Linked DNA regions of Homo sapiens: region 1 is linked to region 2. Evidence: fine-mapped expression QTL. A gene starts in region 2. The other region holds a variant in brackets. All regions are shown on one strand. Distances are between the middles of the regions.

Region 1 (8,485 bases), 28 kb before region 2:
TAGATTACGAAGAAAGTGTCTTTCATGCAATGCTAAAGAGCTTTAATTTTACCTAGAAGTTGCAATTGGAAGAATGTAAACATAAGCATGCTTTGATTAGTGTGTGAAGAATGGACAAAGGGTGACCCCAAAGGCAAGGGAAACCAGTTGGAAAACTCCCGTGTTGTAGTGAGGATGGAGCAGAGGAGACAAATTATAGACATGAAGCAGCAAAGGTTGGTTCCTGGGTTTTGCTTTGGGAGTCTGAGTGGGAGGCATTGCCATTCACCACGAGAGGCAAATTAGAAGGAATAAGCTTGGGTGGGAATTCCATTTTGGATATGTTGAGGTGTCTAGAGGCCCTCAATGGCCATTTTCAGTCCCTGTCTGGATATTTTAGTTGGGAGCTTAGGAGAGAAATCTTGGCTGGGAATAAAGTGGCAAGTCACCAGCATACAGGTGACAGGTGCAGTCATAACGCAGTATTGCCTTTCACAAGGACAGTACACACCATGAGAAGATGGTTGATGGTAGACAATGAGTGGGCAGGGGACTGAGAAGCAACTGCTGGATATTTAGAAGGAAAACCAGAAAAGTAGGGATGGGAAAGATAAGACTGCTTAATGAGAAGGGAGTGGCCAAGAGGGTTAAATGCTAAAGAGCTCAAGTAAGTTAAAACTAAAAAGAACCACTGTATCTAGCCAATAAGAGGTCAGTGTGGACCTTTGAGACCAATGTTTCACTGGTGTGGTGGAGTCAGAGGGTAGAATGCAGGGAATTGAGAAGTGAATGAGAAATGGGAAAGTGAAGCCATAATTGTGGTCAGGGAAGTCTAAAATCTAAGAGTTTGGTTAACTTTAGTCTTGGTCTTGTTTACTTTTACTGTGTTTTCTCCTTCTTGCCCTGACACATTTTCTACTTACTCTCTTCCTCCTGGTTTCCAATTAATGGCTGCAGCGTTCTCATGTTCCTTCTGGTATTTTTTCATTTACTTATTAATGTATAAGTACTTATTAACCTTATCTGACTTTTGCAGTGGAAAATAACTGACTTTGGGATGAAATAGGGCTGGGTTTGAATCCCTTGCTAGAGTCCTCAGGGGCTGCTTTTTTTGTTATCTACAGGAGTTTGAATCTATACAGAAATCTTCTCAAACCAGCCAGGGGCTGGGAGCTGAGACTGCTGGGCCTGAGGCAGCTCTTTCCTCCACTTCTGTCTCTCTCTGGGAAATGTCTGCTCTCATCTCTGCTTTTCTCTGCACTTAACAGTGTGCACGTTTTCTAGAAACCAGTAGGCCAGTTTGACAAATCTTTCAATCTTAGCTCCTTCCATTACACAGCTCAGGAGCCCAACCTTCTCTCAGCATAAATTTTTAAGAGAATATGGTTGTTGACTGGCCAAGGATTGACTTTAGGATCATGTAGTCCAAATAGCAAGAAGTGGCCAGGCGCAGTGGCTCACATCTGTAATCCCAGCACTTTGGGAGGTGGAGGCAGGATGATAACTTGAGGTCAGGAGTTTGAGATCAGCCTGTCCAACATGGAGAAACCCCATCGCTACCAAAAATACAAAAATTAGCCAGGCGTGGTGGTGCACACCAGTAATCCCAGCTACTCGGGAGGCTGAGGCAGGAGAATCGCTTGAGCCTAGGAAGCGGAGGTTGCAGTGGGCCGAGATTGTGCCACTACACTTTAGCCTGGGCGACAGAGCAAGACTCTGTCTCAAAAAAAAAAAAAAAAAAAATAGCAATAAGTGTCAGTTGGTACAAACATGGCCCCCAGACCAAACATTTAAGTAAGAGCTATGAGTAAGGGGCAGTTCCCAGAAATGAAGGTTTGAACTGCACAGAAACTGGTGTGGGATTTTGGACAAATCCCTCAGTCTTTTCAGTCTTAAATGCAGAGTGAAGTTAAAACTTAGTGGATGCAGGCCAGGGCACGGTAGCGCACACCTGTAATCCCAGCACTTTGGGAGACTCAGGCAGGGGCATCACTTGAGGCCAGGCATTTGAGACCAGCCTGGGCAACATAACAAGACCCCATCTCTACAAAAAAATTACACCTATAATATAGTCTTAGCTACTCAGGAGGCTGATGTGGGAAGATTCCTTGAGCCCAGGAGTTCAAGGCTGCAGTGAGCTGTGACAGTGCCACTGCACTCCAGCCTGGGTGACAGAGCAAGACTGTATCTCTAAAAAAACAAAAAAATAAAAATCTTAGTGGATGCTGTGTTGTGCGAGAACTCTTTCTCTAGCTGCTAGGAGCACTGCCAGGGGACAGCTCTCATCTGTCATCCTCTCCAGGTATTTCCTGATGGCAGATGGCAGAAGACAGTCTCCTTGTTCAGTCACGTCCTCTTTCCAAGGACTGTCTGCATCCAATTAATGCTCAATGTCAGGGTAATAAAAATCTGTTCCTCAGACCCCCATCAAGTGGGCACAACTCTAGGGGACATTGCAATTCCAGAGCTCCCTGCAGAGGACAGTGGGCCTCTGTCATGACATGACAGACCAAAGTCTCCCTCTGCCCATTCCTGCTTCTGTCCTTTCCCTGTCATATGTGTTGTTTCCAAGAGCATTACCTAATAAACTTCCTGCACACTAATCTCAGTCTGAGTCTGCTTCCTAGGGAACGCAACCTGTGACAATACCGTACCTCCATCTTACAATATTTTGGGAAGAAATAAATGAAATAGGACAACTCCTGGGACACCTTAATTGAAAGCTCTTTCTCTGAGCTCTTACCATGAAGTGTTCTGCTACTAAACTTTTTCTTTTTCTTTTTTGTTTTGAGAAAGAGTCTAACTCTGTTGGTGCGATCTTGGCTGACTGCAACCTCCACCGCCCAGGCTCAAGCGATTCTCGTGCCTCAGCCTGCAGAGTAGCTGGGACTACAGGCCTGCACCACCAAACCTGGCTAATGTTTTTATTTTTAGTAGAGATGGGGTTTCACCATGTTAGCCAGGCTGGTCTCGAACTCCTGGCCTCAAAAGATCTGCCCGCCTCAGCCTCCCAAAGTGCTGGGATTACAGGAATGAGCCACGGCACCTGGCCTTCTACTGCTACTTTTATTGACGCCTTCTGTTCTCCTAGCCTCTACGTATGTGTGTTGTAGAGCACTATTGGCTTCTTTACATTATGCTCCCTTCTTTTTTGTGTGCTCTGCAGTAACTTAAGATTTGCTCCCACATAGTATTTCCCTTTGGCTAGGGTCAACTTCATGAGTGTCAATCCTGTGTAGCTACACAGGGCCCAGCACTTGGAAGGGTCCCACACTTGATTTAATGCTCTATTCTTGCAATCTTGAAATTCCTTTTCCCTTTTTTTGAGATGGAGTCTGAAGTCTTGCTCCCTGTTGCCCGGGCTGGAGTGCAGTGTCAGGATCACAGCTCACTGCAGCCTCAACTTTCTGGGCTCCAGCAATCCTCCCATCTCAGCCTCCTTAATAGCTGGGACTACAAGCGTGCACCGCATCTGGCTAATTTTTCTATTTTTTATAGACACAGGGTTTCACTACATTGTCCAGGCTGGTCTCAAACTCCTGGGCTCAAACGATCCACCCATCTCGGCCTACCAAAGTGCTGGGATTACAGGCATAAGCCACCACACTGGACTCTTTATTAAATTCTTAATAATTTTTTAATAATGGCTCTGCATTTTTATTTTGCACTGGGCTCAGCAAAAAAAAAAAAAAAAAAAAGCCATGTTACTAGTCTTGCTTTTGGCTCCCTGCCTCCTAAGATGTGAGATAGATCTCCTGATCCGGGCTAGAACCTACCCTTGGTGTGTTACCAAAGGCTCAGTGACTTCACTGATTAGATCTCTGTTGCCTCCACATTCGCTTCACTTGTTCAGATACACACTGCTATCTTTCTGGTATAATTCACTTTCCTCACTTTTCCATCTCCTGACAAAATCTCTCTGGGAAGATAATCGACCACCATTGTCCCCAAGCCCTGCTACATCCACCCTGGTGTCTTTTACAGAAATGTACATAGGTCATAGGTTCTCAATACTTACCACTGGTAGACTGACTTTATTAGGCTTCCCTACATGGTCATTTCTAAGTCCTGTACTGTTTGGTCATTCTATCCACTCCTTCATACTTGCTCCCCAGTTATATTCATTTGGCTTGTACATTTATGTGACATATTCTCAATTACCATCTCTAATGTTCATTCATCTATTAGGTTAGAGTTTCTGGACTAT[C/CT]TTTTTTTTTTTTTTTTTTTTGAGAGACAGTCTCACTCTGTCACCCAGGTTGAAGTGCAGTGGCATGATCTTGGCTCACTGCAACCTCTGCCTCCCAGGTTCAAGTGATTCTCAGGCCTCAGTCTCCCGAGTAACTGGAATAACAGGTGCGCACCACCACACCCGGCTAATTTTTGTATTTTTAGTAGAGACGGGGTTTTGCCATGTTGGCCAGGCTGGTCTCAAACTCCTGGCCTCAAGTGATCCACCCGCCTTGGCCTCCCAAAGTGCTGAGATTACAGGCATGAGCCACTGCACCCGGCCCATTAGCTCTTTTATATCACTCTTTTATGGAGTTCACAGGATCACATACACAATGTTGCAGTCTGGATGCCAAATAAACACAGTTGGATTTTTAAAATTGTTTAATGCATGTACTTTATTAGAATGATATTTTGAACACTGAGATAATGTGATTTCATTCTGCTCACAGTTACTCTAGTACACAGATTTAAAACAATGGTCAAAGCAGCAATTACATTAACTCACTGCAGGAGTCATTATACACTCAGGTAGTACTTTGGTAAATTACAAAACAAATGTACACAAGGGCACTTCAGTAGAAATTAAATCAGTTTGGGGACACATCAGGCTGCTAAATTCTGTACTAGAATCCAACAGCAAATGAGTCATTCTTGGAAGTGGAAGAACTCCATGATTTCACAGCCTAGAACACTAAGTATGACCACCAACGCACCATTTCAACTATCTAACAACCAATGGGAGAGTCAATTGTTCTCATCCCAACTGCCAAAAGCAAAAGGCAGGCCATCACAAGTTGGCTTGTTCACCTTCTAAAGACATGACTTTATTTCTGCCTAAGTCATCTATATAAGCGAATCTAATAAATACAATAAAATGTAACCCAACAAAATTCTCATGTCACTTTTTACAGACATGGGTATATGAGAACCATGGAGGTGCTAAAGAAAAATAGAAGCATTTTCTTATTATCATATTACCATGAAATTAAATTTATGTCTGTTCTAAGGAAAGAAACTAAATGTCCTGTTTGATATTGATGAGTAGGCCTACTCATTCTCTACCAAAATCCTAAAAAAAATAAAAATAAAATTTCACTTAAAAAATAATTTCCTAGGAGGGCACAGTGCTGTAATCCCAGCAATTTGGGAGGCCGAGGCAGGTGGATCACGAGGTCAAGAGATCGAGACCATCCTGGCCAATATGGTGAAACCCTGTCTCTACTAAAAATACAAAAATTAGCCGGGCGTGGTGGCATGCACGAGTAGTCCCAGCTACTCCAGAGGCTGAGGCAGGAGAATCGCTTAAACCCAGGAGGCAGAGGTTGCAGTGAGCCAAGATCGCGCCACTGCACTCCAGCCTGGCGACAGAGCGAGACTCTGTCTCAAGAAAAAAAAAAAATTCCATCTTTTAGATTATGTGCTAATAATTCTCTTTTAAGTGTTGGAACAGGGGAAAGTTCACATTATAGAGTACAAAGGATCAAAATGGATCCCTCCAAAATGGACATCCCCCCAGAAAAATGCTTATAACTTTGAAACACTTAAGACATACAAAGATCTGGCCAGGTGCGGTGGCTCATGCCTGTAATCCCAGCACTTTGGGAGGCCGAGGTGGGTGGATCACTTGAGGTCAGGAGTTCGAGACCAGCCTGGCCAATATGGCAAAACCCCATCTCTACTAAAAATACAAAAAAATTAGCCGGGCACGGTGGCGGACGCCTGTAATTCCAGCTACTCGGGAGGCTGAGGCAGGAGAATGGCGTGAACCCAGGAGGCGCAGCTTGCAGTGAGCCGAGATCGTGCCACTGCACTCCAGCCTGGGTGACAGAGAGAGACTCCTTCTCAAAAAAAAAAAAGAAAAAAAAATACAAAAATTAGCCAGGGGTGGTGGCACGCGCCTGTAGTCCCAGCTACTCAGGAGGCTGAGGCAGAAGAATCGTTTGAACCCGGGAGGCAGAGGTTGCAGGGAGCCGAGACCGCACCACTGTACTCCAGCCTGTGTGACAGAGTGAGACTCCATCTCAAAAAAAAAAAAAAAGAAATACAAAATCTGTAACAAACGAACAGCTGATGGAGAACAGGACAGCATTTACTTCTGAATCTATAAAGTACTTAAGAACTTATACTTGTGGAAAATCACAATGACAATGAATATTTCACCAAATAGATGGTGGCAAATAGTTTGGCAACACATATTAGAAAGGTGATTTCTATACTACACATAAATGAAAGACAAACCGAACCACAATTGATGTTTTACTACATTAATGTAATTTACACTATGCCTATACCCACATGGCAAATTCAGTTATAACTGAAAAACTAGAGCAGTCCCTTTTTTTTTACTATGATTTGCATATTTTCCAGTATCCTAATACATGCATACTTATCTTTTATAGATTATAATAATCTACATTTAAAATTCCATTTTAATATTGTGGCATGAAAAATACAAACACCAATACAGTATGTTTTATGCTTACTCAAAGTTAACTGGCTCAGAGTTTTAAAAGCTTTCCCGGATAAAGCAGAGTCAAGTCTACCCTATATCCCCATCCTATAAATTCCTCTTTGTCGAACCTGGCAATCTCAGTGAGCTATGATTGCACCACTGCACTTCAGCCTGGACAACAAAGTGAGACTCTGTAACTATAAAAAACAAAAACAGACAAACTTGGCTATCTACCTCAATCCATCAATCACCCTCATGCCTTTGAACTTGACAACATCACTCCTCATCTTAGTTTTTAAAGTAAAAGATAGGAATAGTAATGTAAAGCATTCAAAACAAAAATGAAACCTGCATATTTGTTTATTTATTTATCTGAGATGGAGTTTTTGCTCTGCTGTCCAGGCTGGAGTGCAATGGCGCGATCTCGACTCACTGCAACCTCCGCCTCCCAGGTTCAAGCAATTCTCCTTCCTCAGCCTCCCCAGTAGCTGGGATTACAGGCACCCACCACCACGCCTGGCTAATTTTTGCATTTTTTGGTCAAGATGAGGTTTCACCATGTTGGCCAGGCTGGTCTCTAACTCTTGACCTCAGGTGATCCACCTGCCTTGGCCTCCCAAAGTGCTAGGATTACAGGCTTGAGCCACCGCGCCTGGCTGAAACCTGCATCTTCAGAATGTCATTTTTGTGCGTTAGTTTTCCTTTGCCTGTTGGTTTGGAAATTCTCCATGTTCCTAAAGGTAGCTTCCACATTTCTGTTCCAAGAACTGATTAGAAAAAGCAAGATGGTTTCCCGCTTTAGTTGCCTCCCTTTGGTTCCTCACCTCTCAGACAACAAACAGAATGTTAACAGTCTTTCCTGTGATGTTTTTCCTTCTTTCACCTAACTTCCCTTGAAAAAAAAAATCAAAATATTTATTTAGCACTTTTTTCAAAGGGCAATTCCTGATTAATATAGGCAGAAAAACTCAAGATTTATCTTCTTCCATTTCCAAAAAGGTAAGAAGATGTAAATATTTATATTGGGCCCTCTCCCTCCTCATACATTTTTACCCAAAGCTTAAAGAAAAAAAAAAAAGTCAACTCAAAACACAGTTGAAGGTATATACTACATCAACTTTTTCTTTTGTTTCTGCCACAGAATTCCATGTCATTCTTAAGATTCAGTATTTTTCTCACATCCTATTACTTTATATACAAATTGCCATATAGCAATTTTTAACCTATTTCCTCATCTGCTGATAATCACTGGGTCTCCACTATAAGAAAATTGCCCCTAGTTTGTCAAGAGTCCTTAAAAATAACGTATCAATAATTTAAAACTGGTGAAAGAGCTATGCAAGATTGTTCCCTTTAATTTTATATTACTCTAAAATATACATATGTACACATACTCACACATATAACAAATTTACATAGTTTGCAGAAATAAACTACGGAAATAATTCCAAATACACATTTAGAAATTCACATTTTAACAGCAAACTTACATGCAGATAAAGAGAAGTATAGTTTTATACTTCCTAAGTTACACAGCAAGCTGAAATGGAGAATGTTTTAATGGTCATTTTAGATTTATTCTTTCTCCTAAGTCTTAGAAAATGAGCAAAAAGGAGACATAAAACTCAAGCTATGTCTATAGCAGTATCAGTCAATGTGGTATTATTTTTATTAACAAATTATTCAATTGCTTACTCTATACAAAAAGTGATATACACATACTATAATACTATATGCAAAACACAAAATAGCGTTAGAGATAACAAATGAGAACTTCATACAAAATACTTGATTCCATCAGTATTTAACTTTTGACCGGAAGAC
Region 2 (8,521 bases):
GTTTCTGTAAGGCTAAAAACCTGCGTATTTTAAAATCAATCATCAACCTGGCATCCTTCCTCGTGTATTGTTTCTATAATCATCTCAGAAAGCAGGCAGTCATAGGAAACCACCTACTTTAAGGCATATTATTGGCAGAGATGAAATGTGACCCAGATATATAGCTAGTTTATAAAAAACAAACAAACAGGTCGGCATCGCTTAGGTAAACGAGATGTTACGAACTGGCTCCATGTCCTTTTCCATCTGCAATGTAACTAAATCATATCAATCCCCTCCATATTCCCTAAGAAACAATTCAAAGGCAGCTGGAGTTCCCAAAGTAAATAACAACTTTGAATTAAACCTGCACATTAAGAAAAGTTTCCTCCTCCAGAACTCCACAATTGGGATCTGCCATCATAGACCCCACAGCTCTGCCGATGCCCATGGGAATGACTATGCTTTGACCAGCAAGGCAAGGGGAGTAGAACTTGTGATGTGAAAAACAAAAACCTTAAGGAAAAAAAAAAAGCAATCAGTGTTCTCTAAACAAAAAGAGTGGAGAACAAACTAGCAAACACCTAAGGATTGTCTTTTGTCAGTTCAGCAATTAAAAATTGGGATGAGTTCATTATTCCACAAACTAAGAGAGAGAAGGAATCTTTTTAAGTAAGCAGGGGAGATTTAGGTCAATTTTTTGATCGGAAAACATGGCTAGTTTATTTTTATAAACCATTTTAACATTATATTCAATCTTTGGAAGTCAAGTCATCCAAAAGGAAAGCACTTTCTCTGGCAGGAAGGTGCACTGGATTTGAGTTAAACTGTTCTTGTATGTTAAAAGCAGGTCAAAAGGGCAGTTTAAGCACATGCCAAAATTATTCAGGAGTTCTAAAGTTCTGAAACCTGCTTAGATTTTATCCCTCTAGAAAAAATATTTTAAGAAAGCATTCCTATCTGCCCATTATGAAGTGGCATTTAGGTATCTACAACTTCCACAATGAGAACACAGCCCTTTTAAATATTCTTAAACCAAATATTTACCTATCGACCTTTTTAGAAAATCAATTAAGGCATCCCAGTAAATTCAAATAGTATGGAAATTTCCAGAATGTATTTCAGCTAATTGGGACCCCAATACCTTCTTTCTCAATACCCTGCTAGGAGGAAGGGAAAGAAAATTTACTGCTTTACCTGAGGGGAAAAAAGAAAACAACAATAAAAACTCCAAAGGACTCCCCTTAGGTTTAATGTGAATATGTCTATGTTCAGATGTGTGACTGGAGAAAAGTGTGAAATGTGAGCAGTGAAAAGTACTCAGTATTCTATTCCCATAGATATCTTTTAAGACACGTTAGTAAATATGCATACAAGCCACAGACTATATCCCAAACCTGTAACTTTATAATGCCTTTAAGAACTTTCCTTCACAGTCTATTATGTCACCAGCCACTCTCCTCTCTTCTTTCCTCGTCTCTAAGGATTGCAGTCAAGGAATTTGCCTGGGTGATCAGTAGTAATGACTAAGGTTGCAAGAAAAAATTATTAGCGAGAACTCACTACTCAAATATTGTAACTAAGGTATTTTATCAGACACACACACACGCACGTGCTGCTCTTCTTCCTGCCACAGCTGCCTAACCAGAACACCACAAACCATGGCTGTTTTTCTTTTTCTTTCTGAGACAGGGTCTTGCTCTGTCGCCCAGGCTGGAGTGCAGTGGTGCGATCTCGGCTCACTGCAGCCTCGACCACTCAGGATCAAGAGATCCTCCCACCTCAGCCTCCGGGGCTGGGACCACAGGCACATGCCACCACGCCCGGGTAATTTTTGTATGTTTTGTAGAGCCGAGGTTTCGATGTGTTGCCCAGGCTGGTCTCGAACTCCTGGGCTCAAGCCCGCTTTGGCCTTCCAAAGTGCTGTGATCACAGGCGTGAGCCATTGCTACCGGTCTCATTGCTCTTTTTCATCGTCATTGTAATCTGTCACTTTAGTCGCTCATTCTGAAACCGAAGGACAGCCTCATTCCTCCGCCCTGACGGAAAGAACCGATGAGGCCTTGCTGCACGTTAGCAGTGGGAGGCTCAGAAAAGCCCGTGGAGCTTTTGAGACTGCAAATTCCCTGGCTATTTCCACCTGGAGCCTCTTTGTCACATCCGGTGAATTCCCTCATCTACAGAAAGCGGCTGCTGAAAAAGACATCACCAGCTACAACGCCTTGAGTACTACAGCGCTCCCTGCGCAAAGTAAAACCCAAGTCTTCGGATCAAAACCAGCCGGGGCTGTGCATCCTTCACGATGCCGGACCTCCTGAAAAGCTCACCTGGGTACAGCTCAGGATCCTGGCCTCGGCTCGCTGGCCCTGACAGGCGGGTGGTCAGGGTGACACACGGTGGGAAGAACACACGCCCGCCTGCCTGCGAAGCCTCGCAAATAGCTGGGCTCCCTCGGCACCTTCTGCCGCCAGGTCTCCGCCTCCCAACCTCCCTCTGGGCGTACCGAGCCCGTTGTCGCCACGTTTCCCTCGCCCGGGAGGCAACGCGGCACCCACCCCGCAGCATCCTCGCTTCCGGGGCCTCGGGCAAGGGTCTCCAGTCCCAGCCCACCCACCCTGCCCGCCTCGCGCCGCGCTGGCCCTCCAGCCTGCGGCCACATTCAAGGCCGAGCGCAGTCTGGGCTGGAAACCCGCCGCCCGGGGCGCAGGCAGCCCAGCTGGGCCCCGCCTCACCCCGACGAGCTGCTCACGACCTCCAAAGGGAAGAAAGCGACGCTCTGAGAACTCCGAGAGGCCGCCGGCCAAGCGCCGACTCGGGGGGCGGGGGAACGGAAACCGACGTCTCCCCTTCGACCTCCCGGGAAACCCTTCTCCGTTTACTCTCCATTCCGCGACCGCCAATAAAGAACAGCATACATGGTTAGCAGAAATAAATGAATTGCACTCTCTAGGCTCTTACCTCTGGATGGCTACGTCCCTGAAAAATGTTTTAATTAGCTAACGGAGGACGGGGGAGGAGCTTTCTTGGTCGGTAAATAAGAGTGCCTTCTCCGTCGTCTCGGATCTCCGAAGCAAGCAGTCAAAGCGGCCACTGCCTTGCCTGCTGGAAATTCTCGAAAATTTTTCTCCCGCAGTTGACCAGATGGAGAGGGAGAAGTCTGTTCCCGCTGACTGACAGCAGATCCGGCCAGTCCGCACTCGGCGAGACGGCTGGCCGGCCGCCCGGGCCCTCGATCGCAGCCAGTCACAGATGCCGATGGGAACGAGCCTCCCCGCGGCTGCTATTTGACTTCGCAGGCTTCCAGCTGCGCGGCGGAGCGACGTCACCCTGTGCCAGTGGTGGCTCGCGGCGGCGCCCCGCCCTCCCGAGGTTAGCTCCCCAGCCAAAGAGGGGGCGCGCTTGCGCGGTGGGTGGGGCCGCGAGACTTGGTACCTAGCCAGCGGGCGGAGCGCGGAGGGGGTTTCGCTTCGGGCTAAGGGACTGTAGTTGTGACAGCCAGGAAACCGAGAACGGAATGCCAATACTGCTTAGGCTTAGAGTTTGAAAGGCATCTGATTTCACTGCCATGTCTTTGAACAGCAGTGCACAGTGCAGTCTTCTTCGTGGCTGAACAGGTATCTTGTGATCTTTAGGGAATGTCTATTAATTCATTAAACAAGTATTTCTGTGTTTATTGAAGGACGTCTTGTATGCTATACATTTGCTAGGCACTGGGGATACGCCCCTAACACAGCTAGACACGATAGCTGCCCTCATAGAATTTTCAGTCTAACAAAGAAGAGGGAGAAAACCAACAAGTAAGCAAGCACATAGAATAGTAATTAATCATGTCAAGGAAAGAAATAGGCATGGTGTGGACACTGGAGGATAACTTCAGATAAGATTGTTATATGAGAACTTTATAAGATGGCATTTAAACCATCAGTCATTCAGCCATGGAACCAATAAAATGATGAATTGTTTTGGGCAGAGGGGACAGCAGACAAAGGTCTCTCGGTGAGACAGCCCGGCGTTTTGGAAGAACAGAAAGAAAGCCAAAGTGTCTCCAGCATATTGAGGGAGGGAAAGAACAGCATGATGTGAGAGAGATGAGGCAGACAGGGGCTTGGAGTTGGCATTACATTTTAAATTTAATGGGCTTCTATTGAGGCATTCGAAAAAAAGAAGTGAAAGGGTCTGGGTTTAGACTTTACATCACTTTGGTTAGTGTGCAAAGAACAGTTAAAATAAGCTATTGGGAAACTGATTAGGAGATGATGACAGATGAAATTTAAGGTGGAAGATGACTTTGATTAAACTATGACAATATCACTGAAGGGAGAGAAGAGCAGAGAGATTAGAGATTTTAAAGATAAATAATTAACTTGATTTGGCATTTTAGTTATTCTAGGCCAGGGACAACTGTTTTGAATCCAGTGCATTTAATAACCAGGTTAGAGAGTGACTCTCATATTGACGGCTCACAAATTATAGTAATAACCTTGAGTAATATTATGTTGAGTTGATGTCTTTTCATAGACTTCCTGGATTTTTTTTTCTTTTGTCTTTCTTTCTTTTTTTTTTTTTTTTTTTTTTTTTTTTGAGACAGGGTTTTACTCCTGCCCAGGCTGGAGTGCAGTGGCGCTATCTGAGCTCACTGAAACCTCTGCTTCCCAGGCTCAAGTGATCCTCCCACTTCAGCCTCCCAAGTAGCTGTGACTACAGGCACGCTCAACCATACACAGCTAATGTTTATATTTTTTGTAGAGATGGGGCTTCCCCATGTTGCCCAGGCTGGTCTTGAACTCCTGAACTCAAGCAATCCACCCACCTCAGCCTCCCAAAGTGCTGGGATTACAGGCATGAGCCACTGTACCTGGCGTGGAATTTAAAAAAATAATAATTTTATTGAAACATGTGTCTTAAAAAGTGCACATATCCTAAGTGTAGACAGCTCAATGAATTTTCACAGTCTGCAGACACCTTTGTATCCAGCACCCAGATCAAGGAACAAAACATTATTAATACCTGGGAACCCCATCAACCTGCCTTCCAGGCACTGCCTTCTTCCAAGGGGAGTTTCTATGCTGACTTTCAACAGCATAGGTAGTTTTGCCTATCTTTATACTTGTTATATATAAAGCCATAAAGTATGTGTTCTTTTGTTTCTGGCTACTTGGACTCAACATTACACTTGTGAGATTCTTCCATATTGTTGTATGCAGTTGTAGATCATTCATTTTGTTTTCCATTCTGTGGATATACTGTAATTTATGAATTCATTCTTCTGATGGACATTAGGGCAGTTTGCCATTTAGAGCCATTATAGATAGTGCTACTATGAGCATTCTACTACATATCTGTTGGTGATGGCTTTCATTTGATGGAGTATTTTGGTAGCTAAGTTACTATTAAGTTTTTAAAAATCTGCTCATCAATAATGTAGTATCATGTGTTGCAATATCTCAATCATTTGGATCAAAATTTGGTGCAGATAATGAGGACTTTGCTTTCACAAATGTGAAAAATTTTGGTAACAAGAAAGATGTGGGAAATTTTAAGCTTGGAAGTGTAAAATATTTTGAATTGTCCTGGAGTTTTGACCTTTTTTATAACCACTTGCATGCCCAGCATCTGAGAACATCATGACTTTGCTAAATCCTTGTACCAAAACAGACTGGAATCCAGAGTCACATGATAAGCAAAGCCACTTAGGCTGTTCTGAAGAATATCTTTGATACTAAAACAGTCCTTGAAATTGCCTTTGAAAATCACACCATTTCACACTCTACCACAGCTCATTAAAATTAAAGCCAGCAGTTTACTTCTTTTGAATTATATGCTTCTGGGTTTTGAATCTCTGAAGCATAGCTAAATACACCACAAAAATAATTCATGGCCAGCACAGTGGTTCATGCCTGTAATCCCAGCACTTTGAGAGGCCAAGGCTGCCAATCACTTGAGCTGGGAGTTCAAGACTAGCCTGAGCAACATGTCAAAACCATGGTCTCTACAAAAAAATACAAAAATGAGCCAGGCATGGTGGCGCATACCTGTGATCCCAGCTACTCGGGAGGCTGAGGTGGGAGGATCACCTGAGCCCAGGAGGTCCAGGCTGCAGTGAACCATGATCTCACCACTGTACTCTAGCCTAGGTGACAGCACTTTGGGAGGCCGAGGCGGGTGGATCACAAGGTTAGGAGATCAAGACCATCCTGGCTAACACGGTGAAACCCCGTCTCCACTAAAAATACAAAAAATTAGCCGGCGTGGTGGCGGGCGCCTGTAGTCCCAGCTACTTGGGAGGCTGAGGCAGGAGAATGGCGTGAACCCGGGAGGCGGAGCTTGCAGTGAGCCGAGATCGCGCCACTGCACTCCAGCCTGGGCGACAGAGCAAGACTCCGTCTCAAAAAAATAAAATAAAATGCACAATTATTGGTACACCAAACCCCCATGAAATGCAGTTTATCTGTATAAGAAACCTGTTCATGTACCCCAGAACCTAAAATAAAAGCTTTTAAAATGTGAATAATGTGTAAAGGAAATCATTATTTGGTATTTGACAAAAAATTAAAAAATGGAAAAGAATTCACCACAGAGGCTGACTTGGCATGACAGATCACTGCACAATGTACAAAATAATCAAGGGGATATGGCACTCCGTACATTCATTAAGTTGAGCTACTTCTTTATTCAGTTTATATTTTATTTTATTTACTTATTTTTTTTTAGAGACAGGGTCTCCCTGTGTTTCCCAGGCTGGATTGCAGGGACTATTCACAAATGTGATAATAGTGCACTATAGCCTTGAATTCCTGGGCTCAAATGATTCTCCCGCCTCACTGGAGTAGCTAGGACTACAGGCATGCACCATTGTGCCCAGCTCAGTTTATATTTTAAAGAATTGGACCATCTGCTGAAAACCACTGGCTATCAGAAAATTACACCCAAAACAATTCACAGGGCTTTGGGTGGGTGGGTGGTATGTATAATTGCAGAATTATTAATATTCACTAATGAATCATTTGTTGTTAAAATTAGATATGGACATTTTTGTATACTCAGAATCAGCAGTTTTCTAGAAAAGTATCTGTAGGCTACTCTTGGCCTCATGCCTAAAACATGGGCCTGGGATACTAGGATGTATTTTTTCCACAGTTCAGGCTGCTCTGTCCTGAATTGCTAGCCCAGATGTCCCTTCTCTGTGTTACCAAGATAATTGCCAAAACACTGACATAGAGAATTTTTAGGTCTGTTGCAGTGGCTCATCCCTGTAATCCCACCACTTTTGGAGGCCAAGGCAGGAAGACAGCTTGAGGCCAGGAATTCGAGACCAGCCTGGGCAAGATAGTGAGACCCCTGTTCTACAAAAAAAAAAAAAAAGATTAGCCAGACATGGTGATGTATGCCTGTAGTCCCAACTACTTGAGAGGCTGAGGTGGAAGGATTACTTGATCCCAGGCGTTTGGGGTTGCAGTGAGCTATGAACATGCCACTGCACTCCAGCCTGGGCAACAAAGCAAGACCTTGTCTCTTTAAAAAAAAAAAAGAAAAGAAAAGAGAGAGAGAGAATTTGAAATCTTGTCCTTGGATGCAATTAAACTTGCAGCAATGATTTTATTTTAAAATATGATTGTTGCTTCCCCCACCCTGTATAATTTACCTCTAAAAATTTGGAATAAATAAGCTTCAGGCCAGGCGCAGTGGCTCATGTCTGTAATCCCAGCACTCTGGGAGGCCGAGAAGGGTGGATCATTTGAGGTCAGGAGTTCGAGACCAGCCTGACCAACATGGCAAAATGCCGTCTCTACTAAAAATACAAAAATTAGCTGGGTGTGGTGGCGTGCACCTGTAATCCCAGCTACTCGGGAGGATGAGGCAGGAGAATCACTTGAACCTGGGAGGCAGAGGTTGCAGCGAGCCAAGATCATGCCACTGCGCTCCAGCCTGAACAAAAGAGCAAGATTCTGCCTCAAAAAAAAAAAAAAAAAACTTCGACCAGTACCAATGCTACAGAGATTTGAAATGTCTTTCCATTTCCACCTCCGATTATTTGACTATTATTCATTCTATTTGACCCTTATTCAAGCCTTTAATTGCATGTTTCCCATCAGAGCTGTTGTGAGAACAATCATATTTTGTAAATGTATTTTGTAAGAAAGGTTATACAAAATTGTGTTTTATTTAAATCACAAAATGCTCAAAATCAAGGAAGCGAAATATGATAGTCATTATTAGCATTGTTTGCTAAATGTTTACTGTTCTTCATCACCCAAGCCAGTAGTGCCAGGCGAAGGCAGGCATCTGTGACTTGTCCTGGTCAATGAATTGTGAGTGGAGGTGATGGGGTAATTTTTGAGTGAGCATTTCGTATCCCTGTGCAAGACCCTCCAAGGTTCACTCACCTCTGCCATTGCAACCAGCAATGTTCCAGAGAATGGCTGCTCCCTGAATGACTCCAAGGAAGAGAATTCCACTGCAAGCCTATGATAGCCATGGAACATGAACAAGAAACAAACCTTTGATGTAGTTTGTTACTGGATCTTAACCTAACTTCATGTAT

Evidence for each region. PIP is the estimated chance that this variant, and not a neighbour inherited with it, causes the effect.
Region 1: its variant is fine-mapped to the expression of PPM1K-DT in fetal neocortex (Walker 2019, PIP 0.95).

What each region holds. Positions count from the first base shown.
Region 1 is chr4:88,253,034-88,261,518 of GRCh38, forward strand. PPM1K (protein phosphatase, Mg2+/Mn2+ dependent 1K) reads right to left here. Exons shown (of 7, transcript NM_152542.5): 7 at 4,587-8,485. Among named protein-coding and RNA genes, the nearest start is that of PPM1K, 27 kb to the right of the region's middle. The variant C/CT (reference allele first, on the strand shown) is at 4,187.
Region 2 is chr4:88,281,469-88,289,989 of GRCh38, forward strand. PPM1K-DT (PPM1K divergent transcript) reads left to right here and starts at 3,462. Exons shown (of 5, transcript NR_134238.1): 1 at 3,462-3,593. PPM1K (protein phosphatase, Mg2+/Mn2+ dependent 1K) reads right to left here and starts at 3,093. Exons shown (of 7, transcript NM_152542.5): 1 at 2,938-3,093. RefSeq lists enhancers at 2,876-2,935, 2,976-3,065, 2,978-3,501 and a silencer at 3,236-3,455.